Regions from separate parts of the Homo sapiens genome. Here region 2 is linked to region 1. Evidence: fine-mapped expression QTL. Tissue or cell type: whole blood. Region 1 holds a variant in brackets; the other region holds the start of a gene. All regions are shown on one strand. Distances are from middle to middle.

Region 1 (8,105 bases):
TACAGTTGGATACTACTCAGCAGCATAAAGGAGCAAACTACTCATAGATGCAATAACCTAGATGAGTCTCAGACATTATGTTGAGCTGAAGAATCCAGGCACAGAATAATCCATGCCATAGGATCCCATTTTTAAACAGTCTAAGAACAGGCAATGAAGCAATGGTGATAGAAATCAGGACAGCAGTTGCCTCTGGGTGTCAGAGGCTTAACTGCAAAGTCACTAGAGAACTTTCTGGGGTGATGGAAATGTTTTATATCTTTGTTACCAGTGGAGTATGTTCAGGTTCTTGGTGTCTTGAACAAAGAATTGGACAAAATGCACAAACAAAGCAAGGAAAGAATGAAGCAACAAAAGCAGAGATTTGTTAAAAATGAAAGTACTCTCCACAGGCTGGGAGCAGCCCAAGCAAGGGGCTCAAGAGCCTGGTTACAGAATTTTCTAGGGTTTAAATACCCTCTAGAGGTTTCCTATTGGTTACTTGCTGTAAACCCTATGTAAATGAAGTAGTGGCCCATGATCAGTCCGATTGGTTGTGGGAGGGGACTAATCAGAGGCTGAAGTGAAGTTACAAAGTTATACCCTATGCAAACGTCTGATTCGTTGCAGAAAGCAACCAATCAGAGGCTGAAGTGAAGTTACAAAGTTATACTCCTGTGCAAATGAAGACTTGGCCCATAACCAGCCTGATTGTTTGCAGGAGGGGACCAATCAGAGGTACTTCCAATTTTTCATCTGCCATGCAGAAAAAGGGAGCAGGTCGGGGGGGGGGCGGTGGTGTTGCAAAGGGAGTACCCTCTGGTCCTTTTATTACTTGGGCATGGAAAGTTGGGGCTTTCCTTTTGATTTAGTTCTAGGAAGTCAGCATGAATTGGCCTTAGGTTCCCTGCCTCCAGTCCCTCTTCTGCCTCATCTTGATTGGGTTGGTGGTTCTTTTCAAATTCATCAAACTGTATGCTTAAAATGTGTGTATTGTATATAAATTGTGCATCTTTTTTTTAAAGTACTAGAGAAAAAAGACTTCTTTGGAAGTGGTGTGGAGAAGGCTGAAAGAGGGGATTGAGACTAGACATGGGGAGACTGTAATAATGCAGCTGAAAAATTTTAAGGCTAGAATTTAAGAAGTGGCAGTGGGGATGGAGAAAGGGGATGAATTTCTAGATTGAGATGATAGAATTGATAAGGCTTAAGTGATTAGAGAAGAGGAAAGAGTTAAGAAAATTTGGGGTTATACCCTTTGGTAGTATAGGTATATTTGGTGAAAATTGGTACACAGGTTTTAGGGGGAGATTTTTGGTGGCAGTAGATGAGTTTCAAAAATATTGAGGTAGTTGCACATCTGGGCATCTACATGTCCAGTGGACAGAACTAACAGCTATGGGTCTGAGACTCTGGGAGAGTCCTGGGCTGGAGATAAGGACCTGGAGTCATCAGGAGGTAGGCATCGTTGAAATAATCATGAATGAGAGAGTGTATGGATTAAGCAGAGACAAGAGCTAAAAACAGAACCCTGGAAACCTTGACATTTAAAGGGCAGTAGGGAACACACAGCCCTTGAAGGAATCCTGGGAGACCTTAAAATGTCACATCATAGAAGCCAAAGAAGGGAAAAGTGATTAAACAAATGTGAGGGGCTGATGTCAAATGCTGTAGAAGTCAAGTCAAAAAGAACTGCTCCCTCACCACTCCATCTCTCCTAAGCCCCCCTCAAACCTCAGCAGCTCCTTTCTCAGGCTACTGGAATGTCTTTTCCTGAAGGTGCACAGAGACTTCCAAGTCTCCAGATCCAGTGATCTATTCACAACCTTATCTCTTACAACTTCTTTGCAACAATCAAATAGCTTCTTGAAATTTTCTCCTAGGCTTTTGTGACTACAGGGTCCTTGTTACCCTCAAAGCACCCTCAGCATGGCTCTTCTTCCTGCCTCCTGAACATAATCTTTCCCCAAAGTCCTGTCCTCTTTTCTTCCTCAACATCCACTGAAGTGTCTTCTAGTGGTTAGACCTATGCTAGGTGCTGATGATACCAATATGTAAAACATAAGCCTGGCTTTTAAGAGGTTGATGGCATAGCCATAGAGGAAGATGAAAATAGATGGCAATAAGACAGTGTGATGAAAAGTTATTAGCAGGGTACTCTGGGAGTGTACAGGGAGCAACTGGGCCTGAAGAAGTTAGGAAAGAAACAGTAAATAGAAAAGCATCAGCCAGGCATAGTGGCTCACACCTACAATCCTAGCACTTTAGAGGCCAAGGCAGGAGGATCCCTTGAGCCCAGGAGTTCGAGACCAACCTGGGCAACAGAGGGAGACCTTGTCTCTATTGAAAAGAAAAAAAGAAAATAAAGTGGTTGGGCCCAGTGGCTCACACCTGTAATCCCAGCACTTTGGGAGGCCAGGGTGGGTGGATCATGAGGTTAGGAGATCGAGACCATCCTGGCTAACACAGTGAAACCCCATCTCTACTAAAAAATACAAAAAATTAGCCAGGCGTGGTGGCAGGCGCCTGTAGTCCCAGCTACTCGGGAGGCTGAGGCAGGAGAATGGCATGAACCCGGGAGGCGGAGCTTGCAGTGAGCTGAGATCACGCCACTGCACTCCAGCCTGGGCTACAGAGTGAGACTCCATCTCAAAAAAGGGAAAAAAGGCGGGGCATGGTGGTTCACGCCTGTAATCCCAGCACTTTGGGAGGCCAAGGTGGGTGAATCACTTGCAGTCAGGAGTTCAAGAGCAGCCTGGCCAACATGGTGAAACCCCGTCTCTACTAAAAATACAAAAAGTAGCCAGGCATGGTGGCACATGCCTGTTACTCCAGCTATTCAGGTAGCTGAGGCATGAGAATCGCTTGAACCTAGGAGACAGAGGTTGCAGTGAGCCGAAATCGTGCCACTGCACTCCAGCCTGGGCAACAGAGCAAGACTCTGTCTCAAAAAAAAAAAAAAAAAAAAAGAGGAAAAAGAAAAGCATAGAGTCTTCAAGAGGAAGTATTACAGGTGTGAGCAGGGGCCGTGATCTTCAGAAGTTTCATTTATTTATTTATTTATTTAGAGATGGAGTCTCGCTCTGTTGCCCAGGCTGGAGTGCAGTGGCGTAATCTCGGCTCACTGCAACTGCCGCTCCGGGTTCATGCCATTCTCCTGCCTCAGCCTTTCAAGTAGCTGGATCTACAGGCGCCCGCCACCACGCCCGGCTAATTTTTTTGTATTTTTAGTAGAGACGGGGTTTCACCGTGTTAGCCAGGATGGTCTCGATCTCCTGACCTTGTGATCTGCCCGCCTCAGCCTCCCAAAGTGCTGGGATTACAGGCTTGAGCCACCGCGCCCAGCCCAGAAGTTTCTTATAGCTGAATTGTAGAATTCGTGGGGTTGAAGGGTGAGAGGGAAGGCTGGAAATGGAAATGGGGAGAGATAAATTGCAAAAGGTTGTGTATGATACTAATAAGTTTAAACATTCTGTGAGCAGGAGGGAGCTAGCTAGGGTCTTAAATAGGGCAAAGATATGGTCGTGC[G/A]TTTTTTGTTTTGGGATGATCACTAATTGAATGAAGGATGTACCGACAGGAGAGGCAAGGGCACAGGCGAGGGCAGAGGGGCAAGTTGGGAGTTGTTTCAGTAATCCAAGTGAGAAATAATGAGGATCTGAATTAGGGTAGCAGTGAGACTAGAGAAGATGATGAAACTCCAGAGACATTTCTGAGAGATTTGAGAGGATTTGGCAACTGGTTGGGGGCTGTGAAAGAGGGAAAGATTAAGGATGACTCCCATGGCTCTTAACTGGGAAGATTTGGGTGGATGGTAACTTCACAAGACAAAATAAAAACCACGAACATGGAAACAGCCTTTGGATGGAGGTAAGATAATCAGTTAAGATTTGGATAGACTAATTTTGAAATTCGTGTGTGACATTTAGTGCTTTATGTCATCAGATAGTTGGTGGCTGAAATCATAGTGCTAGATGAGCTATTTCAGAAAGCCCATTTATGAGAAAGACCGTCAGTGGGTAGAGATGGGACATCAGAGAATATCAGTATTGAAAGATTGGGAAGAGAGCCGGGCATGATGGCTCACTCCTATAGTCCCAGCACTTTGGGAGGCTGAGGTGGGTGGATTGCTTGAGGCCAGGAGTTCAAGACCAGCCTGGCCAACATGACGAAACCTTGGCTCTACTAAAAATACAAAAATTAGCCAGGCATGGTGGTGCACACCTGCAATCCCAGCTGCTCAAGAGGCTGAGGCAGGAGGATCACTTGAACTTGGGAGGTGGAGGTTGCCGTGAGCCAAGATCACACCACTGCACTCCAGGCTGGGTGACAGAGAAAGACTCTGTCTCAAAAAAAAAAAAAAAAAAAGAGAAAAAGAAAAAAGTTGGGAAAAGAATGCAGAACCTCAAAGGAAACAAAAAGAGAGGAAAAGGGCAAAGGATGCACAGTGTCCCAAGAACCAAGGGAACTGAGAGTTTTAAGAATCAGAGGGTTATCAACAGTGTCAAATTCTACAATAAATGGGTAGGGTTAAAAGTGTCCACGGGATTTGGGAGCTAAAACAATCTGAGCTCATAGAAGTAGAGAGATTAGAATTGTGACTATTAGAAGCTGGGAAGGGTGAGGAAGAGGGTAGGACAGGGAGAGGTTGTCTAACAGATACAAAATTACAGCTAGATGGATGGAATAAGTTATAGTATTCTATAGTACTGGGGGGTAAATATGGTTAACAGTAATCTATTGTATATTTTCCAAAAGCTATAAGACAGTATTTTAATATTCACAACACAAAGAAATGATATATGTTTAGGTGATGGATATGCTAATTACCCTGGTTTAATCATCACACATTGTATACATGTATCAAAATATCACTGTGTATCCTATACATATGTACAATTACATGTCAACTAAAAATAAAAGGGAAAAAAGTGTCCACTGGGTTTGGTAATTAGGAGATCCTGGCTAACATATCAAGATCATTTTTATTGGAGTGTAGTGAAAGCCATAGTGTTGAAGTGAGAGGAAAAAAATGGAGAAGGCATGATGCAGACCAAATTGCTTTCAGACATGTAGAGACTCAGAAGATTTTTCTATATAATTTTACTGAAAAAAATTACTTGAGGGTGTACTCCAGCAAAGATAAAAGGAACTCAACAAAGAGGAAGACATGGGACCTCAGAAAAAAAATGGAGCCAGGCCAGGATGACAGTTATGCAGCAGACCCACAGAGTAATGTGTCTTAAATTGACAGTTTAAGGGCCGGGAGTGGTGGCCCATGCTTGTAATCCCAGCACTTTGGGAGGCTGAGGTGGGAGGATATCTGGAGCCCAGGAGTTCGAGGCTGCAGTGAGACATAATTGCACCACTGCTCTCCAGCCTGGATGACAGAGTGAAACCCCATCTCAAACAAAACAAAACAAAAATTATCAATTAACAGAAAATTTGGGGATCTTGATGATCTTTCATAAAATGGAGAAAACATTTATTTCTGCTTCCTGTTTCTACTTTCTATAAGAAGTAGGCAATGAGAAACCTCAGAAGGATAAAGAAAAACCTATGGAGGCTGGGCGCAGTGGCTCACACCTGTAATCCCAGCACTTTGGGAAACTGAGGCGGGAGGATCACTTGAGCCCAGGAGTTCAAGACCAGCCTGGGCAACATAGTGAAACCCTATTTTGAAACAAAAAATACAAAAATTATCCTGGTGTGGTGGCACATCCCTATGATCCCAACTACCATGGTGGCTGAGGCAGGAGGATAGCTTGAACCCAGGAGGTCAAGACTGCAGTGAGCACTGATTATGCCACTGCACTACAGCCTGGCAACAGAGCAAGACCCTGTCTCAAAAGAAAAAGAAAAGAAAAGAAAAGAAAAACCTATGGCAAAAGTCATGGATCAAATATGAAGCAGGCTAAAATATAGTATCATGTTGAGCGATATGATAGAGTATAAGAAAAAAAGAAATCTGTATACTTGAACTTTCTCTATCCAGCAACATGGATATAATGAAATAGTACTATATCCCTTTCTGTCCTGATTTAACCACACTACCTGATTCTGCAGTGAATATACTGTAATTATAGTATAAATGCTGCTTATTGGTCTTCATGTTTTAGATTCAGTTTAAGAGCAATTTCCCAAAGCATGCTAAACTTTGTATAGTTTCAGAACAGAACACAAATTATTTAAAGCTCAACATGTAACAAAATATTGGTACAGCTAATCAAAGTTGGCATGTTGAGAAGGATATTAATAATCCAATAGCTGGGCGTGGTGGCTCATGCCTGTAATCACAGCACTTTGGGAGGCCGAGGCGGGCGGATCAGCTGAGGTCAGGAGTTTGAGACCAGCCTGGCCAACATGGCGAAACCCCGTATCTACTAAAAATACAAAAATTAGCCGGGCTTGGTGGTAGGTGCCTGTAATCCCAGCTACTCTGGAGGCTGAGGCAGGAGAATTGCTTGAACCCGGGAAGCGGAAATTACAGTGAGCTGAGACTGTGCCACTGCACTTCAGCCTGGGCAACAGAGCAAGACTCCATCTCTAAATAAATAAATAAATAATATAGCTAATAGTCACTGAATCTATACTATGTTCTAGTCAGTATTCTAAGCCTTTTATGGGTTATTGAATTCATGACAATGCTATGAGTTAGGTGCTTTTTTTTTTTTTTTTTTTTTGAGACTGAGTCTCGCTCTATCACCCAGGCTGGAGTGCAGTGGCACACTCTCGACTCACTGCAACCTCTGCCTCCCAGGTTCAAGTGATTCTCCTGCCTCAGTCTCCTGAGTAGCTGGGATTACAGGCGTGCACCACCACACCCAACTAATTTTTGTATTTTTAGTAGAGACGGGGTTTCACCATATTGGTCAGGCTGGTCTCGAACTCCTGACCTCGTGATCCACCCGCCTCGGCCTCCTAAAGTGCTGGGATTACAGGCGTAAACCACCGTGCCCAGCCAGGTGCTATTTTTATTTATTTATTTATTTATTCTTTTTTTTATTATTATACTTTAAGTTCTGGGATACATGTGCAGAATGTGCAGTTTTAATTACATAGGTATACACGTGCCATGTTAATTTGCTGCACCCATCAACCTGTCACCTACATTAAGTATTTCTCCTAATGTTATCCCTCCCTCTAGCCCCCCACCCCCCAACAGGCCCTGGTGTGTGATGTTCCCCTCCCTATGTCCATGTGTTCTCATTGTTCAACTCCCACTTATGAGTGAGAACATGCGGTGTTTGATTTTCTGTTCTTGTGATAGTTTGCTGAGAATGATGGTTTCCAGCTTCATCCATGTCCCTGCAAAGGACATGAACTCATTCTTTTTTATGGCTGCATAGTATTCCATGGTGTATATGTTATTGATGGACATTTGGGTTGGTTCCAAGTCTTTGCTATTGTGAATAGTGCTGCAATAAACATACGTGTGCATGTGTCTTTATAGTAGCATGATTTATAATCCTTTGGGTATATACCCAGTAATGGGATTGCTGGGTCAAATGGTATTTCTAGTTCTAGATCCTTGAGGAATCACCACACTGTCTTCCACAATGGTTGAACTAATTTACACTCCCACCAACAGTGTAAAAAGCATTCCTGTTTCTCCACATCCTCTCCAGCATCTGTTGTTTCCTGGCTTTTTAATGATCGCCATTTTAACTGGTGGGAGATGGTATCTTATTGTGGTTTTGATTTGCATTTCTCTGATGACCAGTGATGATGAGCATTTTTTCATATGTGTGTTGGCTGCATAAATGTCTTCTTTTGAAAAGGGTCTGTTCATATCCTTTGCCCACTTTTTGATGGGGTTGCTTGTTTTTTTCTTGTAAATTTGTTTAAGTTCTTTCTGGGTTCTGTATGTTAGCCCTTTGTCAGATGCATAGATTGCAAAAATTTTCTCCCATTCTGTAGGTTGCCTGTTCACTCTGATGATAGTTTCTTTTGCTGTGCAGAAGCTCTTTAGTTTAATTTGATCCCATTTGTCAATTTTGGCTTTTGTTGCCATTGCGTTTGGTGTTTTAGACATGAAGCCTTTGCCATTGCCTATGTCCTAAATGGTATTGCCCAGGTTTTCTTCTAGGATTTTTATAGTCCTAGGTCTTATGTTTAAGTCTTTGATC
Region 2 (8,105 bases), 250 kb before region 1:
AGGCCAAAGCGGGCAGATCATGAGGTCAGGAGATCGAGACCATCCTGGCTAACATAGTGAAACGCTGTCTCTAGTGAAAATACAAAAATTAGCTGGACACGGTGGTGCATGCCTGTAGTCCCAGCTACTCGGGAAGCTGAGGCAGGAGAATCACTTGAACCCAGGAGGCAGAGGCTACAGTGAGCTGAGATTGTGCCACTGCACTCCAGCCTGGTGACAGAGCGAGACTCCATCTCGAAAAAAAAAAAAAAGTGATGCCTCTCACCAAATGAAACTATTATACTATAGTCTGTGGCATGGTATTTCAGGGCTCAAAATCTGATCAAAAGTAATATCTCAACTTTATCTTTCTCTTGGCCCCTTGCTGTACTCTACAATCAAATGGGCTCTTGAATATCCTCTGAATATGGCCCTACTTTCATGCAAATAATTCATGGAATTAGTTTCTTCCTCCCCTGAAATGTAGTTCAGTAGTTTGAACCTCATATCACATATGATCTGATGTTGTCTTTACTTGTCTGTGTAAGACTATGGTGACTCCCCAGCAACCATTCCATCCCAGCAGGTTGGAAATCCAGAGTAATCCCATCTACTTCTCTGTGATTGGTTAGGGGTGGGCATGTGACACACTTCTGGCCAAGGACACACTAAGGGAAGTCTGCTGGGAAGATTCTTGGAAAGCTTCCCATGTGTTAGAAGGAAACATAGAAGAAAATGTCCTTTCTGCCTCTGGATATTTTCATGTCTGGATGTGAACTGCAAGAACAGCTACAGCCACCTTGCTCTCAACCCAACAAAAGAGATGGAAAGAATTTGGACTTTTGATGACATGAAAGCTCAGGTCAACCAATCCTGGAGACTGTTCTGTCTTTGGACTTCCTATTATGTGAAGTAATTTATTTCCTTATTGTCCAAGGCAGATTAAATCACAGTTTTCTATTATTTGCAGCCAAAAGCATCAGGAAACAATATTTTGTTTTTGATGCTAAATGTTAAGCTTCTTAAAATCAGGGACTGTATCTATGTATCTTTCTAGCCCTCTTACAGCTTGGCATGCAGCAGATGGATGCTCAAAAAGCGACTGTGAAATTAATATTTGTATATATTTCTGGGATACAACTAGTAAAAACACTTGCAATTTAAAAAGCTCTATTTTCTCACAGCAATCTAGAGGTAACAAAATAAAGCTTAGACAGATTAAATAGCTTGTTTAGGGAATTTTGTTTCTCGAAGTCATACCAACTTCTCAAGAGTTTGTTGCTCTTTGTCTCAAATCCTTATCTGGGAATGCCATGCCTGTTAGGGTCCCAAGAAACTGGGGACTGAAGGAAAAATAAAGTGGCAAGCCACTTCTGTGCTTAACCCAGCAATAATGCTAATACAGTAGCCTAGTTGTTTCTGGCTCAGAACCCAGGCCTGGAACCCCTTCTTCTCCCAGTCCCAGTGTATAGTGTGGTAGCTCTAGTGCTGGGGTCATGAATCCCCATAAGTACAAAATTTTAGATGCAGAAGTATTTTCCTGGGAAGATGGATCATAGCTTTTATTAGATTCTCAAAGGGGTCTGTGAGAATCTTAGTCTTCTTAAAGGCTAGATAGAAGTTGGGGTAGAAGATGGTAGAAGTTGGGGCATGGCCAGGAAAAGTTAGGGCTGGTTTGAATGATAAGAGACTGAATTTGTAGGCTGTGGGGAGCTACTAACTTACTGAGGTAAATTGGAAAAGTTTATTTGTCTTCTTAAAGGCTAAGGACTATAACATGATACAAAATCTCAGAAGTAGATGGAAATAAAAACTTTCAGTAGACTTAATGTGTCCCTGTGTTGTTCTGTATTTTGTCATCTAAGGGGACCAGTAGCCCAGGGATCTCTTGTAGATTAGGAAGAAAGAGACAGGTGTCAGGGTTGGGTAACTCTAGGTAAGACTGGAAAAGGAAAATGCGGAGCCCCTTTCTGAAAAATTACGAATTTCAAAATGGCGACACCAGAATATTAAACCAAGCTCGAAGCCCTTCTAAGCTGGGAGCACTGTGCAACTACATAGGTTGGACGCATATGCAGCTGGTCCTGCCTCTTGCACTTACGATTGCACACACTATTGTCTGCCAAATTGGGATGTATTCCTTTGGACTGCTATCCAGACCTTTATTCATTTTTTGAGCACCTACAATGTGCCAGGAATTGTGCTAGTGGTGGGGATTCCAGATAAGAGCGAGCATTCAATTCAATCATATCGGGTTTCTACTATATAACAGGTCTTGTTCTAGGTCCTGGGGATACAGCTCTGAACACATTAACACGGGGCAGAGACAAGGAATAAATGGGTTAAAGATCAGATAGTGACAGGTGCCCAACAAAAACTTAGCACAGGACGATGTGACACAGGGTGACTATTTGAAATGGGTTGTGGTGGGGGGTGCCGGAGATGATATTTGAGCTATGAGTTTAGTGAAAATAGTGGGCAGCCCTAGCTCCATGGGGGTGTGGGTGGGGAGGGTTATCTTAAGCTTGGGAAACAAGGCAAAATAAGGAAAGGGGGGAGAGAGAGACTATATACGGCAGAGTGAACACAGGTGGTAGCTAAGGGAAGGGATGAAATCATGGGACACCTCCAGGCAACAGCCTCCAGGGGCTAAACCATCGTCTTGGGTAAATGGATGGTTTGAGAGCAAAGGCGGGAGCAGCGAGTCCGGTGAGAAGGTCCTCACAGGAACCCAGGCTGGTGAGAAGGTCCTCACAGGAACCCAGGCTAGCGAAGCGGTGGCTCGGACTAGGGTGAAAGTAGCGGAGGTAACGCTGGGTGAGCCGCACCCGCGTCTCCCACGAGGTCCCCCCAGTGAGGTTAGCGGGTGCCGCGCCGAGCGCCAAGCTGAGGAGCCGCCCCCAGGGGCTGGCGCTAGTCTGCAGCGGCGCCGACGTGGCCGGCGCGATCCGCCACGCACGTGTCCGGCTCCAGGCCGGGGGCGGGGGCGCGCGGGGGTCTCCGGCTCCTCCCCGACTTCTGGGGCCCGGGCGCCAGCTGGCCCCGAGCCTCCAGTCCGCGGGTGCGAAGAACGGAGCAGATGGGTCGGGAACAAGGGAGCTGGGTCAAGGCGAGGAGGGGGCGGCCGGGCGCGCGCGCTCTGGCCTCGTGCACGCGCTGAAACCGGAGCGCGCAGGGCGCGCCAGGGTGAGGGGGACGGGGGCGGGGTGGGGGCAGCCCTTTCCCAGGCGGTAGCGGGGGCGGCGTCGCTGTTGCCCTTTTAAGCCGCGGGGCCGCCGCCTCCTGCCGCTGGAGTCGGTTACAAAGGAAGCGCCACCCAGGCCGCCACACGCCGAGGCTTCCGCGCCCCTCGCCATTTTCCAGCAGCGCTCGACGAGGCGGAGCCGCGAGAGCGCGGCCCAGGCCGGCCCCGCGGGGCGGTCGCGGCCGTGACGGCGGCTCCGGGCCCGGCTCCCCTTCCGCGCCCGGCTCCCCTTCCGCGCCCCTCCCGCCGGAGATGAGGGGAAGATGTCCGTGTCAGGGCTCAAGGCCGAGCTGAAGTTCCTGGCGTCCATCTTCGACAAGAACCACGAGCGATTCCGCATCGTCAGTTGGAAGCTGGACGAGCTGCACTGCCAGTTCCTGGTGCCGCAGCAGGGCAGCCCGCACTCGCTGCCGCCGCCACTCACGCTCCACTGCAACATCACGGTGAGGCGCCCGGCCGCGGCCCCGCGGGGCAGGGCGAGGACGGAGAGGGGGCGCTTCGAGTCCCGGGACAAAGGGGAGCCTGCCCCGGAGAGGCTCCGGCTCCCCGGGCGGGGCAGGCCCGCCCCTTTCCCCCGCGACTTGCCCATCCCAGGCCGGGCTGGGACTGCGCGAGGCTTGGGTGGGAGGAGGCGGAGGGCGCGTCTTTCCGGCTTCTCGCCAGGGGCTGGCTTGGGGGCTTCTGGCCCATCTCGGTCCCCGTCTCCTAGCCCCGAGGGGGGAGTCCGCGGCGGCCCAAGCCCTTGTGGGGTCCATGGCCGCCCTCAGCCGGCCTGCTCCCGGGACCGGGGCGGGGCGGGGCGGGGCGGCGCAGCTCCGGCTGTTGTTTGAGCCCAGGCCGGCAAGGGGAACGGCCCTTAAGTTTTAACGCCTCATTTTTCAGTCGGATTTTCCTTCTTCCCGCTTGTTCAGCCAATTGTTTTTAAGTTTGCGTTTAAGGAGAAACTGACAATGAGAATGGACTCGTTGACGGAGGAAAAGTTGGAATGCAGACTCTGGTGCTGTTTGAGCGACCCCTCTCCCCCGGGCCTGGCTGCGCGCTGCTGTGTTCTGGAAAGGAGCATAGTACCGTCGTTGCGGCAGGTGGTGTTGAGTGTGTATTCGTGTGGCCCCTCCCTTGTGTGTAAGCCTCGAAAATGGATAGGTGAAAGGAGATACGCGCCAGGGCTGCTCCCCGGAAAGATCACGTATGTCACAAAGCCGAAAAGACACTTTTAAAAACTCACTCATTAAGCGGAAATCTCATTAGAAACCCAAGGCTTGGTAAAGGAATTGAAGTATTAAGTTTCTCCATAAAAGTGTATCGTGAAGCTATTCGTCGTGAAATTGATGTAGGATATTGGTCCAAACTGCAGAATATTCTCTTGGTTATAATAGGCGTCAAGGTGGTGGCTTCGGGCTCCTTTTCAAACATGGCTAAAACCAAGTCTTGTTTTTAACTCCCTTTGGTTGAGTCAGTGGGTACTCAAGTGCCTGCAGGGTGGCTGGCGTTTGCAAAAACCTTGATGTTATAATTGACCTTAAAATGGTTACCAGACTATCTGGGCAGAAGGTGTGTTAATTTCAAAAAAAAAAAGACAAGTGCTGTACTGAGGAGATAATTCATTTATTGAATGAATACGTCTGAGTGTTCTGGGCACTAGTGTTGCAGAATTGAGTGAAGTCGTCCTCGCTCTCAGAACTCAGTCTTCTTGGGGGAAGAGTTCAATAAGGTGACAGCTCCTGTGGTATCATCAGGAAAGCCAAAGCAACTAATTTTGACTTGGGGGAGGTGCGCTTCAGGGAAGGCTTTGATGAGAGGCTGAGACAGTTAGAGATGAGCTTCCACAGGTGACTACAATTTTGGAAGGCTGGCGGAAGGGCATTTTAGACTGAGGAAACTCCACCCAAAGAAGACACGGAGATTTGAGAAAGTGTGGTTTCCTTAGAAGTAGAAAATTTATGCTAAGACTTGAGAAGCCCACGATACAGGCTGGAGAAGGGGAGGATTTTCCAAGAGTGGAAAACAGAAAGTGTAGTAGTTGTCATGAAGCAGGTGTTTTAAGGAGACGGGCCTGAATGGCTTCGAGGGTGATTACTCTGGTAGAAGTTGGGGCATGGCCACGAAAAGGTAGGGCTGGTTTGAATGATAGGAGACTGAATTTGTAGGCTGTGGGGAGCTACTAAGTTTACTCAGGTAAGTTGGGAGAATGTATCTTTCATCCAGGATTAGAAATGGTTCTCTACAGTGGGTGGCATTAGGAAATGTGGTTATCCCAGTGGGGGTGGGGTGGTCTTATTGCTGTGCCGGCATTTAGTGCTAGGAGTACAGGGATACCAAATGTTTTGCAACGTTCAGGCAGTCTGCCACAGCAAAGAATTATCCCACCTAAAGTGCCACTGGTGCCCCATCGAGAACCATATTGAAGGCTGGTAAGAGTCTGCTGCAGATAAAAATAAGGAGTGATGACCTGGATTAGGCAGTGGCAACAGAAATGGAGCAAGAAGTGAATGAGACACTTTCAGTACAAGGAGGATTTAGTGAGGACTAGTGTAATGGCACCCACCGCTAGGTAGAAACTATTAAAATTGACTTGCTAGTGAAATATGACAGACTATCAGGAGATAATTATCATGGCAGCTGCTCAGTACAAATGTCTGCTAACTTTTTATTATGGAAAATCATCAAATGTACAAAAGTTGAACAGTGTAATGTAGCCAGCCTCAACAATGATAAACTTTTGGCTAATCTTCATCTGTACTCCACTTTAGATTATTTTGAAGCAGATTCCAGACAGATCACTTCATCTGTAAATATTTCTGCTTGTATCTTTTGAAGGTAAAAGACTCTTTTATTTTTTATTATTATTTTTTGAGACGGAGTCTCGCTGTGTCGTCCCAGCTGGAGTGCAGTGGTGTGACCTGGGCCCACTGCAACCTCCGCCTCCCAGGTTCAAGCAATTCTGCTGCCACCGCCTCCCGAGTAGCTGGGATTACAGGTTTCCGCCGCCACACCCGGCTAATTTTTGTGTTTTTAGTAGAGACGGGGTTTCACCATGTTGGCCAGGCTGGTCTTGAACTCCACCTCAAGCTCCCAAAGTGCTGGGATTACAGGAGTGAGCCACCGTTCCTGGCCGTAAAGACTCTTTTAAACATGGATGACTGTTTTGATAAAATGACATGGCTTGTTCATGTCGATACCATTTGCTTAGAAGGGAAAGATCAAGGGAAAAATGGGGTTGGATTTCAAATGATTTGGTTTGATCGATGATTTGTTATTCTCTAAAGTTGTAACTCTGGAAAAGGTAATGAGTTTGACTTATTCTTTAACTTTTCCTCTTTAGACAGTTCAAATATTTGAATTCTACATGCTAGGACTTGTTTTCTTTATACTTACCAAGAAACATCCTTATGCAGTTTCTCTAATGTTTGAGAAACTAAGTTGTTTTTTACACACGTGCATGCTAGTTCCTGAAGAGTCCTGTACAGGTGCTCTGCTGGCTTTTCCTTTCAGGTTTCTGTATCAGCTGTATTTCTCCCTGTAGAATGTGCCCCTGACCTCCACCCCTTAACCTTACCCCATTTGTCTTTATATGCCTGACCATCCGTCAAGGCTCTTCTGGGTCATATTTAGTTCATGCTGTTATTTCCCCTTCCTCCCTTCTTTAGTCCTTACTATTTTTGCTTTGGTCATGTTTTCTTATGCTGTATTCTGTAAGCCTTTAAATTTTTCTTTTTATGGTGGCAGGGGAGAATATTTTATAATTATGCTTTGTGCTTTTTATCTTCCACTCAATAAATGCTTCATAAATATTTGAGTATATAGCGCTATTCTAGCTGTATTGTATTTGAACAAAAATCTTAACTGCCTTGTAAGTTAACTGCTAAGAATTTGTCAAAAGTGCAGAGATAACATCAATAACTTGTCATGGATAGTACAAAAAGGTCTCTAAGGGCTTGATGGAAGTCTGTAAATTGACTTCATATGAGAGTGTAAGAAGTGAAAAAGACCAAAACAGAGTAGATGTTTTACTCTGTAGGCCAAGGGAATTGAGCTAATTCTTTTCCTGTTTTATAAATTTGTCCTGATCTTAAATAATGAAGGGAAAAGAGTGCTCTTTTTCAACCTCGAGTCCTTTTTATTCTTTTCTGTGAAGCCATGATATGAAAGATTGCCTGTTATACAAACTTAAGTATAGTTTTTCCATCTTCAGTAAACTAACCTGATTGCCGTCTAATTAGTTGTTACAATCACACCGAAATGCAAAGCAGCTTGTTTTAAGCAGCCTTATTGGGAGCTAGTATATGGCTTTAGTCGTTTTGAAGTATTTAACATAACTTGGCAACTCCATTACTCCTTTTATGGACTTTTTGGCATCTGGGCATTCTTGGTAGGAAATCACTGTTTTAGAATGAAAAATCTCCCCCAGGAAGTAAATTAGCTAGTAAACAAATGAAACTTCATTTTTTATATTACTTGTAGAGCATAAATGATTACCCTTTCTGCGTATAAGTGGCTGTTTGCTAGGCTGCTTTTAGTGGGACTTTGTTTTTGATTGGTTAATTAAATTTCTATTCATTATTGCCAAAAAGTGCCTACCCCCAACAGCAAGATACTAAATTTTAAAAATGTTGGAGCTGTGAATCTAGGAGGAAGTGAGAAGTTTAGCTTTTATTTAGTAGTTAGGAGCTTAAGTAAGTCACTTCTTTTACTGTGTTTCTGTGTACTATAGATAATATTTTTTTGCACTGCAAGAGAGCATATAGAGGAAAGCTCTTTGGCAATGATATTATGTTCTACAAATATAAAAGCGATGGTGTCATTTGTGGCTGAATAACACTTTATTTTGAAAATGCTTTATAACAGGTTTTTGTGGGAAATAAAGCAATGCTGTTAACTTCAT

What was found. PIP is the estimated chance that this variant, and not a neighbour inherited with it, causes the effect.
Region 2: it holds the start of UBE2Q2, and the variant in region 1 is fine-mapped to the expression of UBE2Q2 in whole blood (INTERVAL, PIP above 0.99).

What each region holds. Positions count from the first base shown.
Region 1 is chr15:76,086,167-76,094,271 of GRCh38, forward strand. All of the region lies in intron 1 of TMEM266 (transmembrane protein 266), which reads left to right. Among named protein-coding and RNA genes, the nearest start is that of TMEM266, 30 kb to the left of the region's middle. The variant G/A (reference allele first, on the strand shown) is at 3,508.
Region 2 is chr15:75,840,181-75,848,285 of GRCh38, forward strand. UBE2Q2 (ubiquitin conjugating enzyme E2 Q2) reads left to right here and starts at 3,267. Exons shown (of 13, transcript NM_173469.4): 1 at 3,267-3,666. The coding sequence starts at 3,487. RefSeq lists silencers at 2,848-3,027, 3,068-3,207, 3,348-3,427, 3,678-4,077 and an enhancer at 3,349-4,246.